Linked DNA regions of Homo sapiens. The protein of the gene in region 1 purifies or fractionates together with the protein of each later gene. This does not show direct contact. Each region holds a gene or a part of one and is shown in the gene's direction. Other genes may lie near its edges.

What was found.
Region 2: the proteins of MELTF (region 1) and SLC25A15 purify together in Homo sapiens (affinity purification with mass spectrometry; one large-scale study listed by BioGRID and IntAct). This does not show direct contact.

What each region holds. Positions count from the first base shown.
Region 1 is NC_000003.12:197,012,818-197,016,317, reverse strand, and holds part of MELTF (melanotransferrin isoform 1 preproprotein), read left to right. Parts: coding exon 1-129; intron 130-801; coding exon 802-953; intron 954-3,500. UniProt on the Homo sapiens protein: Involved in iron cellular uptake. Seems to be internalized and then recycled back to the cell membrane. Binds a single atom of iron per subunit. Could also bind zinc.
Region 2 is NC_000013.11:40,799,611-40,803,110, forward strand, and holds part of SLC25A15 (mitochondrial ornithine transporter 1), read left to right. Parts: exon of another isoform or gene 1-1,114; intron 1,115-3,500.

The sequences.
Region 1 (3,500 bases):
ATGGCCAGAAGGATCTACTCTTCAAAGACTCTACCTCGGAGCTTGTGCCCATCGCCACACAGACCTATGAGGCGTGGCTGGGCCATGAGTACCTGCACGCCATGAAGGGTCTGCTCTGTGACCCCAACCGTAAGTCCACCTGTCCCCACTGCTGCCAGCTCCAGCCCAGCTCAACCTCGGGCATGGCGAGGCTCTCTGGGAAAGTGGCCGGGGGAAGACGCTCACCAGGGAGGCCTCTGCGGGAACCTGTCATTTCCATTCCTCTGCCCCTGGGGCTTTGGGGAGGAGGCATCTCTTCCACTGTATGGCCTGTTGTACCTCGGAAGCCCCACCTGGCCGCAGCGGGGGAGGATGCAGACCATCAGAATCTGTCTTGGGAAGGGTCTCCTCGCCCCCCCATCCACGGCCATGGCATCCTGTCAGCTCTTCTACAGCCTCTCGCTCCTACTCCCCGCCTCTACCCCATGGCTACAGCCCTGGCGCAGGTGCCATCTTTCGCCTGGACTATTGCAGTAGTCTACAAGTGAGCTTCTTGCCTTTAGCCCCCTGGCCCCATGTATCTTCCACCTCCAGCCAGGGAAGTGGGTACCACACACTGAGTTACATGCACGCCAGCCATGGTCTTCCTCAGGCCTCACAGTTGCCCCTTTTCTGTGTGAGGAAGTGGGATCCGATGGTTAAATAACTTATCCCAGCCACACACCTGACAGGAGAAAGGCCCAGAATTTCCCTTGGGTCCGACTCCATGCTCTTCCATGGCAGTACTGGCCTGGCAGTGACCGCTTGCTTGCCCCACCCCAGGGCTGCCCCCCTACCTGCGCTGGTGTGTGCTCTCCACTCCCGAGATCCAGAAGTGTGGAGACATGGCCGTGGCCTTCCGCCGGCAGCGGCTCAAGCCAGAGATCCAGTGCGTGTCAGCCAAGTCCCCCCAACACTGCATGGAGCGGATCCAGGTGGGAGTCACGCAGGTGCAGCGTGGGCCAGGTGGGCGGGTGGTGGCAGTGCCTGGGCAGTTCTTACTACCCACACCCCCTGCTGCCTGGGGAAGAGGAGAGTGTCTACTGCAACAAGCCCACAGAGACGGGTGGGGAGGAGCGACCGCAGGGGCCAGCACCCACCCCAGGGGACAGAGACAGGCGGGGAGGAGCGACCGCAGGGGCCAGCACCCACCCCAGGGGACAGGCAGATAGGGGTGAGTCCCCTGGAGAGCCTGGGAGCTCCTCACTAAGTGGGGGTGCCAGGAGCAGAAGAAGCGCTGGCCCAGCTGGGCACTGACGCCCTGTAGCCTGGGGCAAGCCCCTTCCCCTTTCTGAATCTCAGCCTTCCCTTGTGCAATAGAGAGTGGGCGTGGATCATTGTTCGACTTTTTTTTTCTTTTTTCCTGATTTTTCTAAATAGACAAATAATAATTGTGCATATTCATGAGATACATACTGATGTTTTGATACATAGAATACATGGTGATCAGAGCAGGATAATAATTAACATACCATCATCTCAAACATTGCTCATTTCTCCGTGTGGAGAACATGCAATATCGTCCTACCTGTTTGAAACTATGTATTATTGTTAACTCTAGTCATCCTACAGTCTATAGAACACTGGAGCTTATTCCTCCTATCTCTCCTGGCTGGGTGCATTGGCTCACACCTATAATCCCAGCACTTTGGGAGGCCAAGGTGGGTGGATCACTTGAGGTTAGGAGTTCAAGACCAGCCTGGCCAACATGGTGAAACTCTGTTTCTACTAAAAGTACAAAAAAATTAGCCGAGCATGGTGGCACACAGTTGTAATCCCAACTACTTGGGAGGCTGAGGCAGGAGAATCGCTTGGACCCGGGAGGTGGAGGTTGCAGGGAGCCGAGATCACACCATTGCACTCCAGCCTGGGCGACAAGAGAGAGACTGTCTCAAAAAAAAAAAAAAAAAAAAAAACTCTCCCTATTCCTCCCTTCCCCTACCCTTCCCAGTCTGCAGCATCCTCTGTTCTACTTTTTACTTCTGTGAGATCAACTTTTTTTAGCTTCCACATATGAGTGGAACATATGGTGTTTAACTTGCTGTGCCTGGCTTATTTCACATAACACGGTGTCCCCCAGTTCCGTCCGTGTTGCTGCCAGTGACAGGATTTCATTCTTTTTTATGGCTAAATAGTATTCCACGGTGCATGCCAATGACATTTTCTCTATCCATCCTCTGTTGTTGGACACCTGGGTTGATTCCACATCCTGGCTATTGTGGCCAGTGCTGCGATAAACATGGGGTGCGGGCATCCCTTCCACAGGCTGATTGCCTTTCCTTTGGACAGATTCCCAGTGGTGGGATTACTGGACCATATGGTATTCAATAGTTCGATTTGTAGTTTGTGGAGGGACTTCCGTACTGTTTTCCATAGCGGCTGTCCGGGTTTACATCCCCAGCAACGGTGTGTAAGAGTTTCCTTTATTCTGCATCCTCACTAGCATTTGTTATTTTTTATCTTTTTGATAACAGCCACCCTAACTGGGGTGAGCTGATACCTCACTGTGGCTTTGATTTGCATTTCCCTGATGATCAGTGATGGCTGCTGGCATTTTGTATGTCTTCTTTTGAGAAACGTCTGTTCTGATCATTTGCCCGTTTTTAAGTTGGATGGTTTTCTGCTGTTGAGATGTTTCCGTTGCATGTGTATTCTGGATATTAATCCCCTGTTGGATGAGTAGTTTGCAAATATTTTCTCTCATTCCATAGGCTGTCTTCATTTCACTCTGTTCGTTGTTTTCTCTGCTGTGCAGAAACTTGTTTGTTTGATACAATTCCCTTTGCTTATTATTGCTTTTGTTGCCTATGCTTTCGAGGTCTTTTCATAAAATCTTTTCTCAGACCAATGTCCTGAAGCGTTTTGCCTATATTCTCTTCAGCAATTTTATTGTCTTGGGCCCTGCATTTAGGCCTCTCATCCATTTTGAGTTGGTCCCTGTGCTGGGTGAGGGGTAGTTTAGGGCCCCGTTCATTCTGCACTTGGACATTCAGCTTCTTCCCAGCAGCGTCCACTGAAGAAGAGATCACTCTTTTCCCAAAGAGGTTCTTGAAACCTTTGTCAAAAATCAGCTGGCTGTAAAACTGCGGGTTAATTTCTGGGTTCTCTATTCTGGATCATTGGTCTATATGTCCGTTTCTATGCCTCTATCTTTGTTCTTTTTGCTTAGGATTGCTTTGGCTATTCAGGGTCCCTTGTGGTTCCATACAAAGTTTAGGATTGTTCTTTCTAATTCTGTAAAGAATGTCATTGGAATTTTCATAGGGAAGTTCAGCATTGCTGACAGCACCGAGCACTCAGAATACATTTTGCATTGATCACAATCTAGTGAACGGAAACTTTTCTTTCAGATAGAAATTTAAAAATGTATGTCCTTTATATACAGAGATATGACACAAATGGTACCCACTATTTTCTAATGTATTCTATTCTAATCCTTTTTTTCCTGACACTTGTCATGACCCACTCGATTTGGCCCCCAT
Region 2 (3,500 bases), on another chromosome or scaffold:
TGTCATCATATAAAACTTAGAAACCACATATGCACACCACAGAGGAGACCTGCTCATCATCCACCACTGAGAATGAACCGCCCTTCTGTTTCAGTTTTCTCCAGGAGAATGCTGTTCAGATGCAGCTGGCAGTGCTACCTCTCGTCAGCAGACATGCTGCACTGAAACTGTAGATGCTGCTTATGATCCAAGATTTAGCTTTTCTTTCATTAGCAAAAAGCAGAGTATTGGAAGAGGTTGTCTGAGCCAGATGAACTTGAGGAGTTTTAGGAAGGGTCGGAAATGTCTGCGAAGATGCAAGGGAACCCACCTTTCTCTGTCCAAATCTTCCCAAAACATCAGACTTTGCCTCTTTGTTGGTCTTGCCTTGGGTATTTATTATATAGAGACTAAACAGAATTTGGAAACCACTGGGATGTTTAGCTATCCCTGCTTTGAATGTTGATTTATTTTATACCACTTAAAATTATTATATAAGCTTCAAGATTGCAAAGGGCAGTCTTAGTTATTTCAGTAGGAGTTTGAAACCTGATTGCAGCTGCAGGTCCCACACAACTGAATTCGGTTTCTTGTGCACAGCACTGTTCTCTGGAGGTGCCTGGAGGTCTGAAGGTGTGCCCTTTTATAGACAGGAATTCCACCATGATGGGTAGAGCTTGTTTTTTAAAAAGGCTTGGGACTAGATACGATTGCCCAAGAAGACAGTGTAGACAGCGAGGAGGGCTGAGCATGAATGGGATGAGCCTCCAGCACAGAAAGGGCAGGCAGGAAGGCAGTAAAGAAACAAGCAGGGCACAAACCAGGAGAGTATGGCATGCCATGATGGAGACTGAACAGAAGCAAAAACTACAGGCAACTGTAGTTTTGTTCCCTGTTGAAGGAGAGACACTCTATTAGAGAAGACCTGGAATTCAGTTCAGTTTCCTTAGCAAAGGACAAAATGGGGAGAGAAGACAGGGAAACAGTAAGCAGCCACGTGAGATTCTGGGGAAGACCTGTGTCTTCTGAGCAAAGTAGCCCCTCCAGCCACAGGATAGACAGTGACTTCTGTCTTGCATGAGTGAAACCACTGGATCTGGCTCTGCCCGCCCCTCCACTTTCTTGCTTCCTTAGCCTGTGAACAAAGTGAAGGACAGGTAAGAGCATATTGCTTTTCTGCTGAGAACAATCTAATACCTTACAGCTGCATTTTCCCACACTGCTTTCAGAACATTGAATTGCTGGGTGTCCTTAAGAAAGGGTTGGGAAATTACGTCACAGTGTCTCTCTCGTGAAGAATCACTCTGGGTACATTTATTTCATATAGTGTATGTGTTATTTAGTTCATTAAAGATGCGTAAGGCTGGGCACAGTGGCTCACGCCTGTAGTCCCAGCACTTTGAGAGGCTGAGGTGGGCAGATTACTTGAGCCCAGGAGTTTGAGACCAACCTGAGCAACATGGCAAAACCCCGTCACTACAAAAAATACAAAACTTAGCTGAGTGTGGTAGCACATGTCTGTGGTCCCAGCTACCAGGGAGGCTGAGGTGGGAGGATTGCTTGAGCTCAGGAGGCAGAGGTTGCAGTGAGATGATGCCACTGCACTCCAGCCTGGGCAACAGAGCGAGACTGTGTCTCTCAAAAAAAAAAAAAAAAGAAAAGAAAAGAAACCATCCTGATTAACCTTGTCTAATCCAGCACTCATCTTTTTTGAGCTTGGGCCCGTTTTTTTTTTCCATCCTGAGGAACAGTGTTTGCCTCTTACCTGTTGGGGAAATGCTCTCTTAGAGTCTACAAAGCTCTGACATGTATATCATGTCTCTATAGCCCTCACCGTGATCCTGTGAGAAGAGCAAGGCAGATGTTACCTCTCTTAGGGATGGAAAACTGAGGTGCCGATGTTGACCTGCTCAAGGTCACCCCGCTAAGGACTTGAAATTGTGTCCTCTGAGCTCCTGCCCAGTCTCCTTTCCATCAGACCACAGTTGGGGGTCTGGAATATTTTATAAGGGTCAGTTCTAGAGAGAAGATTAATCAGGAGCAGTGAAAGGAAAGAACTGCTTGTGAGAGCCTGTGGTGAATTTCTGCAATCACATTGTAAATATTTGTCTGTTCCCGGTTTCAACATGACCCAGAATGTTCTAGTTTGACGTTTGGCTGGACAGGGTCTTACATAGCAGGAGTGCTCAGGTACATGTTTGTTGAACATATGACAAATGGATGATTCTTACAAAATCCCATCCTATACCTATTACTGTTTCAATTCCAGTTCTACACATTCATACTACATGCAGAACCAGGGGCCCATGCACCTCCTTCTGTGCACTGGTCAATGAAAGTATTTATTGGAAAGCCAAAGTCCACTGCATATCTGATTTGACTGTGTCCTTGCACTATAATAATGTGCTTGGTGTTCATTCAGATGTCTGAGCCATTATTATATCTTAAACTCAATAGACTTCTACATTTATTGACTGCCACCTTTGTCCTGGCAAACTTGGCAGATCCTGGTTAATGCTCCTAATTGACTATTGCCTGTCAACAGGTTAACAGAGAGTCCCTGAGGGAGGCCAACTGTGGATCTGCAGGCTGGCTGCAAGACAACAGAAACCATTTTAAGCTTCAGTTCTAACAAGCTGCTAAGGAGTGAAGTGGGGGAAAGGAGTGGACTGAACAGCATTGGATGGTTTCCACACCCCATAAAAGCGTGTGCAAGTACATTTGTGTACCTGGTTCTCCTTTGCTAATGGTTTTAGGCTTAATTCTCTAACATCAAAAGGAAGTCCTTACTGCAAACAGTGTCTTCCTACTGAAAGAAAGCTCCACTCTAAGCCAAGTCTTCTGAAAGAGTTGCCTCTGGCCATGGTACAGAAGCTAGACCACCAGGGACTAGCAAACCAGGGCCAAGACTGGTGCCACCTTGATTTTATACTAATCTTTAACACTGGAAAAACTTGAGTACCCCTGAATATGGTAAGTCCATCTGTGCTTTTTTTTTTTTTTTGAGACGGAGTCTCACTCTGTCGCCCAGGCTGGAGTGCAGTGGCGCAATCTTAACTCATTGCAACCTCGCCTCCCCAGTTCAAGCAATTCTCCTGCCTCAGCCTCCCGAGTAGCTGGGACTACAGGCGCCCACCACCATGCCCAGCTAATTTTTGTATTTTAGTAGAGATGGGGTTTCACCATGTTGGCCAGGATGGTCTTGATCTCTTGACCTCGTGATCTGCCCACCTCGGCCTCCCAAAGTGCTGGGATTACAGGTGTGAGCCACCGTGCCCTGCCCCATCTGTGCTTTTGCTCACAGTTTGGAGAAAAATTGTTAGGGGATTATATCTCTACCTGAGTAGTTAGCTGAGGAGATTCCCACCCACCCTTAGGGGTTTTTGGAAATCTCTGAGGGTGATCTTGGCTGTCCAGTGAGAGCATGATGCTGGCATTGAATGGGTGTCAGGGAACCAGTTCAGTCCTTCCTGCCCAATGAAGGATTGTCCTACCCCCAAATGCCAGTCATGATCCCATGA